Homo sapiens: one gene and its partners. The protein of the gene in region 1 purifies or fractionates together with the protein of each later gene. This does not show direct contact. Each region holds a gene or a part of one and is shown on either strand. Other genes may lie near its edges.

What was found. The genes of interacting proteins can lie anywhere in the genome.
Region 2: the proteins of STATH (region 1) and CP purify together in Homo sapiens (affinity purification with mass spectrometry, with the first as the bait; one large-scale study listed by BioGRID). This does not show direct contact.
Region 3: the proteins of STATH (region 1) and GC purify together in Homo sapiens (affinity purification with mass spectrometry, with the first as the bait; one large-scale study listed by BioGRID). This does not show direct contact.

Annotation. Positions count from the first base shown.
Region 1 is NC_000004.12:69,997,841-70,003,792, forward strand, and holds the end of STATH (statherin isoform a precursor), read left to right. Parts: intron 1-582; 5' UTR 583-597; coding exon 598-648; intron 649-1,826; coding exon 1,827-1,847; intron 1,848-1,939; coding exon 1,940-1,969; intron 1,970-3,022; coding exon 3,023-3,109; 3' UTR 3,110-3,142; intron 3,143-4,348; 3' UTR 4,349-4,730; downstream 4,731-5,952. UniProt on the Homo sapiens protein: Salivary protein that stabilizes saliva supersaturated with calcium salts by inhibiting the precipitation of calcium phosphate salts. It also modulates hydroxyapatite crystal formation on the tooth surface.
Region 2 is NC_000003.12:149,173,265-149,177,280, reverse strand, and holds part of CP (ceruloplasmin precursor), read left to right. Parts: intron 1-868; coding exon 869-1,031; coding exon of another isoform or gene 1,032-1,043; intron 1,044-1,400; coding exon of another isoform or gene 1,401-1,417; exon of another isoform or gene 1,418-3,550; coding exon 3,551-3,567; coding exon of another isoform or gene 3,568-3,571; 3' UTR 3,572-4,016. UniProt on the Homo sapiens protein: Multifunctional blue, copper-binding (6-7 atoms per molecule) glycoprotein. It has ferroxidase activity oxidizing Fe(2+) to Fe(3+) without releasing radical oxygen species. It is involved in iron transport across the cell membrane.
Region 3 is NC_000004.12:71,772,931-71,778,030, reverse strand, and holds part of GC (vitamin D-binding protein isoform 1 precursor), read left to right. Parts: intron 1-5,100. UniProt on the Homo sapiens protein: Involved in vitamin D transport and storage, scavenging of extracellular G-actin, enhancement of the chemotactic activity of C5 alpha for neutrophils in inflammation and macrophage activation.

The sequences.
Region 1 (5,952 bases):
TCATTTTCAGTAACATTATAAAGCGATTGCCCATTGCTGGTCATTCTAACATCCAAACATCTCTTTACACTGTACCTTAAATATCATCCCTAATGTCATTATTTAAGGCGCCCCATAATATCCAGTTCTATCTTCCCTACATTTTGAACTGTTCCAGTTTTATCTTCTGATAAACTGCTCCAGTTTTATCTTCCCTACATTTTGAACTGTTTGCACTTTCAATATGGTATCCTCCCTCTTTTTCATTTTCTTGCAGTCACCCAACACCTCTTTACTCATCCTGCATAATCCAACTCAAGCTTTACTTTCTTCTTTACCTTCATACCCCTATTCTCTTGGTCTGTGTAAGGTGTTGATTTGTGTGTTACTCTAATGCCTTAGCATTTCCATATCAATACACTCACTTTTACTTATCAGTGTCTCCAACAAGTCTCCAAGTTTCATGATGTCAGGCAATGGGTTTTAATTGTCTTTCTATCTGGAGTGTGTCTCCCAGTGCTTTGGAGCGTAGTATAATCAATAAACTTTTGATGGGCGAATGCAAGAAAAAATGTGATACTGAATTTCCACATATGTTTTCAGAGAACCCAGCCAACTATGAAGTTCCTTGTCTTTGCCTTCATCTTGGCTCTCATGGTTTCCATGATTGTAAGTATATCAGGACATTTGAAGAATATGTTCTCAGTACCTATCCCAAGAGTCTCTCTATTCCTTGTGTTCTGGCATATATTGGTGTTTACTTGAATACAGCTTTATATGTTTAAATGTTTCCATATGAACTTTTTTTTGTACTAACCTACATAAGCTATATAAGGATTTAGAATAAATAGTCATTATTCATCTACAGACACTAAAGTATATTTAGCTTAGTGTGAAATAAAAGAAAGTTTTACTGAACTTCTTAAATATGTGGAACTGAGAGCTTCTAAAAGTATCTTTAAACATGTAATGCTCTAGACAATCTGAAGTTAGAAATCTCAGGAATGAACTAGGTGCACTTGAGTGGAATTCAAGTATTAGAAGATGTCAAAGTAGAAATTTTCAAGTCATTCCTTGCAAAAACTAACTTAAAATTAGTATACAATTATTTAGCACACACTTTCTAAAATAAAGCTGCTTATTTTTAACTATAAAACAAAACTTCAGATCTATGACATGTTATGAGTTCCCAGCTTTTATTGTCATTTACTACTATGTATCACTAGGTAAAGCACTTGACTTCTCTGGAGCTCTTTCTTCTACTCTACTTCCTTCTATTTCTCCTGTCCCTTTTCTATGACATTAGTAGGAAACTGGCCATGAAAGAATAAAAATAGTTCAACTTACCTGGTAAATTCTAACAGATATTTCAAAAACTAATTTGATTATAAAATCACAGTATACCACATTATTTGTTATAAAAGGATAGGTGTCTAAAAAATAAAAAATAAAAATGTAAGGAAAACAGAGAAAAACATAATGCTTGTCTCTGTCAGTAAATAAAAGTTATGTGTAAGTAGCCTTTGAGCTGCTGAAAACATATTCTTATGAAAAAATACAAAGTTTCACTTTTCATTCACCAATGATAACCATTTACTCCCTTTTACACACAAAACAAGTATAAATCCAAATAAATTTATATTTGAATATAGCACACTAATTACAGAAAAGCATACTCTTAACTCATTTTAAAGATGTCATGAAGCAAAAATAACTAATTTAGTGTCTATCGATGATTTGCCTACATCCTGTTTACTCACAACTGTAGCTGCTGAGTTCATTTTTGTACTCAATCTGGAATTATAACATTAAGATACTAACTATTGTCTAATTTTCTGTTTTCTAAGGGAGCTGATTCATCTGAAGAGGTGAGTCATTTTCATTCACTGGAAAACTTGTTTTCAGTTTTGTCCTCCCTACATTTGTATTGAATTATTAAACTTTTCTTCATTTTTCACAGAAATTTTTGCGTAGAATTGGAAGATTCGGTGTAAGTGTTCTCTGATAATGCTGTGTAGTCCAAATAAATTGTGTTCTCTGATTACTTATTCTTCTAGAAGAACCAATACTTATTTCTCAAATATGTGTAGTAGTTGCAAAAGTGTGCTTTGTTTTCCTCTATTTATGATACACAGGTAACAGTCACAAATGTATTGTGTCCTAACAACATTTAAGTTGAAACTCATAGTGCCAACCTGAAGAAACCAGTTACTCCCTGAGCCCTCAAGTATCATCTCCTAAGTAATCACTTTGACCTAAAAAATAGTTGAAATTCTAATTCTGTTAATTATAATATATGCCTCATGGAGCATAAAGGCTGATAATTACACATAAAATATGGTAAGTTTGCACCTTCTGATTTTTTTTGACGGTGATAAACTCATTAAATTAAACAGGTCATGATAAATGAGATAGCAAATTTCATTTATTTAACATTTTTCTTAATGTATGTATCTTGATGTCCCAGTATGTTGACATATAATGTCAATGTGATAGGGTTGCAAAAGATCCCCTAACTAATATAGTGAATACATGGATTAAAATAACACCAAATAAAAAGATACTCTAAAAGGGATGATGGTTATTTGTGTTAACAGAAGGAAGAAGTATTAAGGAATGTAGGAATCGTAAGAGACAGTAAGCTCATTAAAAGAGTGACTTGAAGAAACACCACATAAGCTGAATTTAGTAAATGTCTCCTTCCCATAATACTCAAAGGTGGGCAAAATGGTTGCTGGGAGGTAGTATTTTGAAGAAAATTTAAAACCTCTTTGGAGTGATAGCCTATAATCGGTGTTCCTGCATGTGAAATAAAACCACAAAACTGTGAACATGCAGTACAAAGGTAAACACTCAATCATTTTTACCTGCTTTTAAAATGTGTTTATAACCAAAAAGAAAAATCTAATTGAAAGTTTGGAAAAAAATCTTATAAGTAATATGTAAGTTCCTAAAACTTTAACAATCTAAGCTTCTAATAAAAACGCTTGCACTGTCATTATCTCAATTTTCTGCAATTTTCTTTCTCCTTGTGTGTATACAGTATGGGTATGGCCCTTATCAGCCAGTTCCAGAACAACCACTATACCCACAACCATACCAACCACAATACCAACAATATACCTTTTAATATCATCAGTAACTGCAGGACATGATTATTGAGGTAAGATGGGTTTAGTGACATTTTTTTTACTTTCTGTATCAGTGCTGACAGTTAAAAGAAGAAAAACAAAAACAAGACATTAAACCAACAGCAGTTCCAGTATAAGAAAGCAGCCAGCTGTATAGCTCCTTGAAATGTATTAATTTATATAAATGCTTCTGAGATAGTCTCTGTCCTGCTATGGTTAGAAGGCAGTGTTATAGAGTGGGGGACACCAGGGTTTGTATGCTGGCCCTGACAACTACTAGTTTCATGACTTTGAACTACTCCTAATGCTCCTGAACCTCAGTTTTCTCGTCAAAAAATTGTGTATTATGATAACACTTAAATGTGCTTTTTAGAATTGGTGACACTTTTGAAAGACATATCACATAAAATCTCTTGATCAGAAAGGTTTGTAGTTATAACTGCAGGGCTTCCCTGCCACTAAATCTGTACCTAGGTGTTGCTTAAAGTTTTCACTCCCAAAATGCAATCTTTGGAGAAGCTTCCATCTGGGAACCATCTGGGAACTTGTGAGAAATTTGCATTTTGTACCCTAAGTAACTCTACTGAGCAATTACTATAGAAATTATTAACATAATGCTAACAAGAAAATATGGAAATGTTATCAATTTCTTTTTAGAAAGTCAGTTTTACCTATCTCTACACAACATTAAATGTTCTAAATTCTATGAAAAAATAATATTTCAAAACAAAATAGAGCAAACTCTTGGAGATAAGGGAGGATTGTTCTACAAAGTTAAAATAGTCCAAAGGATTTCAATTATTTTTCAGTGCATTTGGGAGATTATATTCCAATTCAATTCTCTATTGCCATTAGTGATACAGGGAAGAGCCTGAACTTGATCCCCTAGGTTTTAGGTAATAGCTGATGACATTTAATCAAGAAAAGATGTATTGAAATATTATTTAGAGGAAATGCATATAAATGAAATGTGTAGGCTATATTTAAGTAGAAGAATAAAATAGTATGATGATTGAAAAATAATTTAAATTGTAGATGCTGAATGATAATTTTTATTTATTCAGGAACCAATTTAATAATTGTTTAATTGTCTACTCTGTGTCAAATATTATTTTGGGCCCTGCATTTTATAAACTATAATTGTATATAATATCTACTCTGTACCAGGCCAGAATATAAATGTGTTTACAGGGGTAAAAATTTTACAGATAATCTGTTATTTTTTTTTTTCTGTGCAGGCTTGATTGGCAAATACGACTTCTACATCCATATTCTCATCTTTCATACCATATCACACTACTACCACTTTTTGAAGAATCATCAAAGAGCAATGCAAATGAAAAACACTATAATTTACTGTATACTCTTTGTTTCAGGATACTTGCCTTTTCAATTGTCACTTGATGATATAATTGCAATTTAAACTGTTAAGCTGTGTTCAGTACTGTTTCTGAATAATAGAAATCACTTCTCTAAAAGCAATAAATTTCAAGCACATTTTTACATGTATGCTCCTTATTTTTCTCTTTTCTATTTATAGGAATAATGATTTCTTTCATCATCTTCTTTCCCAGTTTGACTAGCACAGATTGAAGCCCATAATGTCAGAGGTCCTTATTTATAATTTAGTCTGTCATATTTTATATGTTACAAACATGGTACTCAAACTCACTTATTATTAGAGCTATTTATGCCAAGATTTGATTTGCCCATGGTTTCCTTTGCCACACCACAGTTGCTAAGCCTCCAAAGCACTCACATTTTTTATCTCAGTCCCTGTAGGTCAGAAGATAACCACCATGTCACTCTACAGCAGTATGTAGGCACTCTGCATGTAAACCATCTAATGCCCTCCATTAGTTTTTCAGCAATGACTTTTATTCAAGAAATATTTATTGAATGACCCCAGCTGTCAGGTCCTCTTCTAGATGCTGCAGACAAAGAGAGACAAAAGTCCTGTCTTTGGAGAGTTTACATTGTAGTTGGGAGATGCAGATACAAAGTAAATAAATAGTACATATCTTAGGCAATGATAAGTGTGCTAAAGAAGTATAAGCATGTCTAGGGCACAGAAACAAATTTAAACAGGATAGTCAACAAGAGACTCTCTGACATAGTGACATTTTATGAAAGATATGAACTAAGCATGAGAGCGAATATGGAGAAATAAATTTTCCAGCAGAAAATAGCAAATGCAAATTTATTGTGATAGAAACATGTTTGTTTCATTAGGGACAAATTCAAGGAGACCAATATGGACAGAGAAGGCAAGTGGATCAAAATAAATTACGTCACAGCATAAGGGATACGCAGGTAACTAAAGCTTTGTGGCCCATGTTAAGTCTTTGATTTGAGATGGATGACATTGGAGAAAGACATAATCTTATTTATATTTTGGAATGGAATCAAGGGTTGAATCATAGATATCCACACTTGGGCCTTACAGAAATCTGTGGGTCCTTCCTATTTTTATGTCCTTTTATTCTATGTGTTCCTTTTAAAATTTATTTTATTTTCCTCTAAGCCAGTACTTCATATTTTTCATTCACTATATACTTGCAATAACTCAAACAATTCCAGTGAACTTCTGGGTTTGGGTAACTCTACTTGCTAATATCTCAATCCTATAAATCCCTAAATTTTATATCATGTTTCTTTATCAAAACCTAGATATATAGAAAAAATGTGATTTTTTTGTTTTCTAAATTTGGAGTACAACATTGCTCACCAAGTTTTTTCCACGTATTTGATGCAATACCTCTCTCATTAACCTACAATAAATTGCCCCAATATTTGTTTTCTGAAGGAACCAACTCATCTCACTCAGTAGTCAATTTCAAAA
Region 2 (4,016 bases), on another chromosome or scaffold:
ATTGCTAACAAAGAGGGTAGGAATGTTCACATAATGATGGATGAGAGTAGAGACCACAACAAGACTTTATTATAACCCTTGCCCTGCCTGTTCTAAGTTCTGTATCTTAAATGGCCCATGGTGAGCAAGATCAGTTAGGTGACAAGCAACTGGTCTGTACATCTCAATCTTACTTCTATTCTTTCTCAGTACTGATTTCAGCAGAAGCCAGTGGCCCTCCTGGAAATGCTTTTTCCTTATGCTTTGGGCTAATTTAGAAAAGGCAGAAGTTATCAAAAAGCATACTGCAGAAAGCCTGTTTTGTTACCTGCATTTTGTTTTACATAGATATATTGTATTCTTAGTGGGCTTTCAATTCTATCCTTGCAGAAATAGACTATTGTCACCCAACTACTGTTTCCAGCCGAGACTCCCTGAAGTGCCTCTGGTTTTTGTCGTTTTCATCAGCCTCCTTTTCTGCTTCCTTTATTATTTACCTTGACTTAAAGCTTCAGACAAGCTAGGACAGATTCAGGCAAAAGTGAGGCTAGGGCTGAAATGGGGCCACAGCTGAGTTCCTTTTGTGTAGCTTAAGTGCTATGACAAACAGGCAAACCAGAATCAAGGTACAGGAGGTTTGTAGGTAGTCCTGATTGATGAATTCATTCTCATCACATCTTTCTTTCACACCCACTTGATGTGGATACCAAAGACTTATTAGGAATACAAAAACCACATTTTACCATTTGTATTAAACACAGAAACGAGCTCGATTTTTTAAAAACAGATTTATCCATTTTTTCAATATCCCTGAGCTGAACATTAACAAATGACATGAGTGAACTCTCATATACAATATTATACATTATTTGTCATTTTTCTAATTAAGCACAGGGGAGTTTATAGTTCTGATGTCTTTGACATTTTCCCTGGAACATACCAAACCCTAGAAATGTTTCCAAGAACACCTGGAATTTGGTTACTCCACTGCCATGTGACCGACCACATTCATGCTGGAATGGAAACCACTTACACCGTTCTACAAAATGAAGGTGAATATCCAGGTAGTAATTCTAGAAGCCATATATAAAAGATATAACTAAAGGAACTACTTTGCCTAAATACTTCCCCCAATATGATGCATCAATATGAAGCATTTGTGAATCTGCTGCCCTGATTTCTTCCTTCTCTACCTCCAAACAGGATTTTTTTCCTGCTAAATGGTGAGGGATACTGCTCATTTCCTGACAGCCAGTACTTGTAACAGCACCAGTCATTTCTAAGTTAATACAAATGTGTAATTATACTTAAAGCTGATATAAGGGAGTAGTCATGTTATTTACCAAGAAACAAACCATTATTTACATAAGACACATTTAGAATCTAATTTCTTTCTTAACAAAAAACAATTTTTTTTCTAGGTGGCACCTCCATGTAAGAGAAGCCCAAGACAACCCCAAATAATATAATTTCAAATAGGCAGTGTCTTTTCTGTGCTTCCAAGGGGAAGGAGGAACCTTACCGATAATTGTTTGTGAAAGATCCAGGGAAGAAACAAAATTTAAATGCACTGCTCCCCAACCCCTGCAATAACCCTCCCCATGTGTAGGTACACACACACACACACACACACACACTTAAAATGGAGAAAAATGAACAGTTTTTTTGGTAAGATTCCTGCACTGTGGCTGCAGGCTTTGGTCTTTCCTGGGTCTTTCGAGTTGAGGATTGTTGTAATTAGAAATGGTAAATTCAAAGGGAGGAAATTATGTAAAGAAAACCAATCTATGTCTTTCCTCCCTAAAATGGGGAAAAAGGGAACATACAAATGAAGAAAATATAAATGTAAATATATTTGAAGATTTAAAAAGCCCTGAAAGGTTAACCTTTAGTGCAAATGGAAAGTTTTAATTTCTGCTCCTGGGTCTTACACAAACAACTTACATCATGAAAAACTATTTCCATTAATGCCCTTTTTATTAGAGCAGTCACTGATAACACTAGAATATCAAAGACTCTAACAGACAAGCCACTAAATTTAACGCCAATAACTTGAACAAAGTGAAGAGAGCCAAATATGAGAAAGAAAACTTTAGTCTTTAAATAACACTTGCAACCATGTGGTTACATGTGGTTGCATGTAAACCACACAAAAGGATGGTCTTGCTCAAAAAAATAATGGTGAGTAAGTAACATGGAGGCATTTGGGGAATTCATGTGTGCAAATGCCTGGCATGCAGAGTATGGCACTACAGGGTAACCCTACACACACAGCCACAGAGAAGATTCCTCCTGTGTAACAACCGTGAAAGAAGAGGGAGATTACTGCTTGGTTAAGAAAGGCGAGATAGTTTTTAAAGCTATAGTAAAAATTACAGAACAAATAGCAAATATGAAGTAAAAATCAACACTAGATAAAAAATTAAAGAGAAATTTGACTTTTGCAAAGAGAAAAGGTATTGCATGAGACTGAAAGCAGCAGACTGAATAAAAAAAGATAGTTTGAACTATCTTTGGCCCATAAAATCAGTGGCCATGTTTATCAGTCTGAATCATCTTTAAATAAGTCCAATAAAGCTTTGAGCAAGTTTACATTAATTATGAGTCTTAGAAAAGCCTGCTTAGCTTTAAATTTCTTACAGGCAGGGACTATATATTCTGTATTTCTAGCTAAGTACCCAAATCCAATACAATAGTTTGCTTACTGAATGTATAACAACATATTAATTCAATGAAGAGAAACTTTTGAAACTTTTTTGACATAATTTCAGATTCCCATATACCTTTCACCCAGATTCCCCAAATATTAATGATGTGCGTAGCCACATTGGCTTTCTCATTCTTTTCCCTATCTCCCTCTCATGCTCACCCTCTATATGTACACACACAGACGTGTATAGATACACATACAACTATCTTTCCTAAAAACAAGAATATTCTTGTACATGACCACAATACAATGATCGAAATTAGAAAAGCAACAATGATTTAAAAACTAGAGATCTTCAAATTTCGCTAATAATCCTAATCATGTTCTTTACAGAAAAAGAAAATCCCGGATCATGTACTGCATTGTTGCCATGTCTTTTAAGTCTCCTTTACTCTGAATAATTCCTTAATAAAGGGCACTTTGTAGAATGTCCTTCAATTTGAGTTTGTCTAATGTTTCCTTATGATTAGATTTAGGTTATGCACTTTTGGCAAGACTATCATGGCATGATGTTGTGTTTTTCTTAGTACACCATATCAGGAGGCACAAGATATTGATCAGTTCTATTACTGGTTATGTTAACTTCAAGCTTTGGTTAAGATGGTGTCTGCCAGGTGTCTCCATTGTAAAGTTATTCATTTTCCCTTTACAATTAATAAAGATCTTGTAGGGAAGAAAGTAATCTTTCTTTAAATAAAGCAGCAATAGAATGAGAGATTTTTAAACATATAAAAAGCAGAAAAATATAAATGAATCAGGAGTAAAGTAACATTAAAAATTGGAATACATTTAAAGAACCATCTACTAATTTCTAACCATATATTATTTTTAATAATGGTCTTAAAATTTCTTTTTCTATAGACACCAAATCTGGCTGAATGAAATAAATTGGTGATAAGTGGAAAAAAGAGAAAAACCAATGATTCATAACAATGTATGTGAAAGTGTAAAATAGAATGTTACTTTGGAATGACTATAAACATTAAAAGAAGACTGGAAGCATACAACTTTGTACATTTGTGGGGGAAAACTATTAATTTTTTGCAAATGGAAAGATCAACAGACTATATAATGATACATGACTGACACTTGTACACTAGGTAATAAAACTGATTCATACAGTCTAATGATATCACCGCTGTTAGGGTTTTATAAAACTGCATTTAAAAAAAGATCTATGACCAGATATTCTCCTGGGTGCTCCTCAAAGGAACACTATTAAGGTTCATTGAAATGTTTTCAATCATTGCCTTCCCATTGATCCTTCTAACATGCTGTTGACATCACACCTAATATTCAGAGGGAATGGGCAAGGTATGAGGGAAGG
Region 3 (5,100 bases), 1.8 Mb from region 1:
AACTTTAAGTTCTGGAATACATGTGCAGAACCTGCAGGTTTGTTACATAGGTATACATGTTCCATGGTGGTTTGCTGCACCCATCAACCCACCATCTACAGTAGGTGTTTCTCCTAATGCTATTCCTCCCCTAGCCCTCAACCCCCGACAGGCCCCAGTGTGTGATGTTCCCCTCCCTGTGTCCATGTGTTCTCACTGTTCGACTCCCATTTATGAGTGAAAATATTTTTATATGGAAATAACTGTGATTTTTTTATCTATTAAAAAATACAATAGCAAGAGCACAGTCTTAGAATAACCATTTCAGTCTTCAAATTTTACTACACGAAAGTAAATTTGTTATTTTGATATTATCAGTTCTGCTGCAAATGTTAGGTAATAATTGGTTTTAAAATGAAAATACTTTTATTTGACAATTGCATACTAGATTTTAAAAAATATAAATAACAAAATACATGGTTGGATTGTTGACTAGGCTAACATTGAAGTGAGTGTTCCTTTTAAGTTTTCTTAGCAAATATATCTAAGGAATTATATCCTGGTGGCAATTGGAATGTAATATCTAGTATATATCCTATAGAAAACATTGGCATTCCATTTTCCATCTACATGATACTGCAAAGCTCATTATTAATTTATTTGTTTAAAAGGCTCTCTTTAGCCTTACTAAGACAAATGAAGTGCTATAAAAGCACTTAAAGCAATGTATATCACAATGGTTAACACAAAATAGCATTGAGTACTTGATAGTGAAATTTCCCATTTAAATTACAGTTCTTACAATTGTCCAATAATAAGCCTTCAGTTTCTTACTGGGATTTAATAAGAAAATTAGAAAATTATATTCCATTCATGAAAAAAAAATTCTTGCTAACACATCACTATAGCAGACAAGCACCATAAAACTCTTTTGGCCATACTAAAAATTAATATATAAATATCTACTTTTTATAATTTTAAAAAGATAAATTACTAATCTTTGAAATAGAAATTTTCCTATACAAGATAATGCAATCTGTTGGACTTCAAATGCATTTAAATGGCTCGGGGATCTGTTTGACAAAAACATGTGTGATGATAGAGACATAAATAATGATACACATCCAATATATCCTCTCCATTAGATTGCATAATTTGATTTCGGTTTATACAGTATAACTTCAGTAGTCATTAAGACGTGTATTTTGTTAGGAAACAGTGAAAGAAAATCACCCATGTACAGTGTTTTCTGGTTTAAAATGTACTGTTTTTTAATTGGCAAATTATAATTATATACATTTCTGGGGCACAATGGAATAGTTTGATATCTATATATAATGGGGAATGATAAAATCATCAATGAACTCCTCTACCATCTCACTGCTTATCATTTTTTCTGAGGCATTTGAAATTTACTCAAGTTATTTTGAAATATAAAATACATGATTAACTATAGTCACCCTGACGCAAAATAGATCTCAAAACATTCCTCCTGTCTAACTGAAATTTTGCACTATTTTCCCAGCAGCTCCTCATTCCCTCCCTCCTCTTCTCCCTGCAGCCTCTAGTAGCCATCATTTTACTCTTCTGTGAGTTCAACTTTTTCAGATTCCATATATGATATAATGCAGTATTTTTCTTTCTGTACCTGGCTTATTTTACTTAACATAATGTTCTCCAGGGTCATCCATGTTGTCACAAATGACAGAATTCCCCTCCTTCTCTTTTTAAGGCTGAATAGTATTCAACTGTGTAAATACATCACATTTTCTTTATCCATTAATCTGTTGATGGACACTTAGGTTGTTTCAGCATCTCGGTAGCTGTGAATAATGCTACAGTAAACATGGGAGGGCAGACATCCCTTCAACCTGTTAATTTATATTTCTTTGGATATATACCCAGAAGTGGTATTGTTAAATCATATGGTAGTTCTATTTTTAGTTTCTTGAGAAACATCCATACTGTTTTCCATAATGGCTGTACTAATGTATATTTCCACCAACAGTGGAAAAGAGTTCCCTTTTCTCCACATTTTTGCCAATGCTTATCTTTCAATCTTTCTGGCAATAGCCATTCTAACAGGTGTGAGGTGATATCTCATTGTGGTTTTAATTTGCATCTCCTTAATGATTCCTGATGCTGAACATTTTTTATAAACCTGTTGGCCATTTGTATGTTTTCTTCTGAGAAATGTCTGTTTGGGTTCTTTGCTAATGTTTTAAATCGGTTATTGGTTTTCTTGTTATTGAGTTGTTTGAGTTCCTTACATATTTTGTATATTAACCTGTTATCAGATATGTGGTTTGCAAATATTTTCTCCCAGTCTGTGGGTTGTCTCTTCACTTTGTTAATTTTTCTTTTGCTGTGCAGTAGCCTTTTAGTATGATGCAATCCCATTTGTCTATTTTTTGCTTTTGTTGCCTGTAATTTCAGCGTCATGTCCAAAAAACTCATTGCCTAGACCAACATCATGGAGCTTTTCCCCTATGTTTTCTTGTATTAGTTTAACAGCTTCAGGTCTTACATTTAAGCCTTTAATCCATTTTGAGTTGATATTTTCTCAAGTTTTAATTGAGATAGATCATACATGGCTAGCCAGGGAGGCAGAATCACCACCACTTACTGTTTATATCACCTTATCAAAGGAGTGCCATGTGGAACTATGACTGTGCCAGCCCTTGTTGAATGATACTTTCTTCAGATTTTATAATACTTGCTTAATGAAGTGACTTTTATGGGAATGTCCAGAATTGTGCCAGGCATCCAGGACCTAAAAATTTAGACATGATCTTTGCCCTGAAAGAACCTTCATGGAAAATAAAGACAATTTTGCTTAAAGGCAATATTAGTATATGCTGCCTTTATAAGATCTATTAGCAAACGTCTAGTGAGTATTACTTCAAGTCTCTGTCACTACTAAGACCAAAGCGCCTGAGTCTTTCAACCAATCTGCTCACCTTTCTATTTTCCTGTGCCAAACCCTGCAAACTTTTTCATTTAAAAAAAAAAAAAAAAAGGGCCGGGGAAGAAAATGAAGAATAAGAATGACTTTTTTCCAGGACTGATAGTCAAAGATAAAGATTTTTAAACAGGCATGAATAATAATGAATCTTTCGATACCATAAAAAGAATATCACTAAATTTCAATAGAGTAATTCTCTAACTCATGGACAAAATGTACTCAAAAAGTTATATGTTATTTAGAAGTTAAAGTACAATTTTTCATAGAAATAATTTAAATATGAGATGAAGTTCTTAAAATGATGCATAAAAATAGGTAGTAAACATGGGATGTAAACTGTGATAACCACAAACCTCATAAAATTTTTGTGAAGATTAAAGCAAGTAATACATGTCAAATATTTAGAACAGTACCACCAAATTGTTGGCACTCAAATTTTAATTGTTATCATGATATTATTATTATTTATATTTATATTGCTGTAGAATCTAAGTGCTTCAATGTGTTCTAAGCGTCCAAATTAAATGCAGGGGATATCACCTTTACCCATCCCAAAAGTGGAAGAGGCAAACCTCCCCCTCTATCTTTACCCCTACAAAAGCAATTACAGATGAGGAGGTAACCAACCCACAAAAGGAAAGAGAGGTGGGATGAAATGCATGGAGAAAAAATGCTTCCTCTGGAACTTTGGTAAGTGTCACAAAGGACAGGCTACCACCCGAGGTGAACCCAAGGACATTAGTTTGAGTGAGTCTGTGATGCTGTCTCCTATTGCAGTTGCAGTTTCTGAGTAATTAACCCATTGACTATATATCTTTTGCTGTTTTCGTTTGTGTTTGAATTTTCAAAGTCTGAAAGGACGCTCAATTTGTTGCACTGATATCATCCTAAGAGGTACAGTTAACTTCTAGATTAGTTTATCTATAGATGTCATGTGGGTCTCTGGGTTTAGTATTAAAAGGGTTGAATTTCTTTTCATTGACTCAAGCTCAAACTTTTTCATTGGCAATATTTTTAGTGATACAGAAATCTCTTATAACCAGATCAGCTTCCTAAACCAGCTCAATAATGTTTACTATTTAAGTCAATTCACTACTGTGAAATGAACAATATCATGCCTGACTAGTTTGAATAAACACTGCAAACCATATTCTTAAAAGGTAAATTTATTTAAAAAAATACTAACAAATATACTGAGCTTTTCTGACATGGATGAGTCTGTCAGTACAGAATAGAAATAAAAATGCCAAAGAAATGAAATTGTGAAAATATAAAATGCCCAACAGAGCTGTTAAAGCCCATGATTCTCCAGAACACAATAGGAAAACAGCAACTTGAGATAGTTCCTAGCATCCTGTACGAGCACTTATTTATGTCAATGATATTTAGGATCCATTAATGTACTTGGTATACGAATAACTGTTCTAGGGAGCCAAATTAGGTTTTAGTGAAAGACTAGTAATAGTGAAGGCATCCAAATACCTACTTTAATAAACTTTGTAACAAAGCAGTATCTTATTAGCTATCCCCATTACAACGAAAGTTACATGAGGGCAAGGATGTGTCTATTTTGGGTTCCATTGTAAGTTCAAATTCAATATTGAACCCAATGCCTGGCACAAAGTAAGCCTCAAAAAATATCTGTTACATGTATGAATGAATATTGTCAACTCTGTTGGCAGAGGTAAGGTGCCTGAAGCAGCAAAGATTTCCTGAAAATAAATCACACTGGCTTTCAAAAGTTCAGAATTAAACAAGACTTACCAGAATGTTTCACAATATAGATAAAAAGTGAAACATGCTATTGCAGAAAGCAAAAATTCTGTTAGTGAAATTTGTAAACACTTAGTACTGTGGGGGGTCACTTCATGTGAAAGTGATTTCATCAGAGTCACTAAGATTATGCCAATATTTACTAGGGCCATATCAAAGTCCAAATCACCTTCTTTATAACCGAATGGTACATTTGAAAACAGAGCGTATAATTTTACAGTTCATTTGAGACAGGAATTAACTATATGAATTGGAGTGAGCTCAACTGGTTTTACACCAAAAACATTTATTAAGCAGTATTCCATGGAATGGGGAATCAATTAGTAATAATCACATTGCAAATTAACTTTAGTATTTATTTGCTGTATTTGAAAATTGAGACA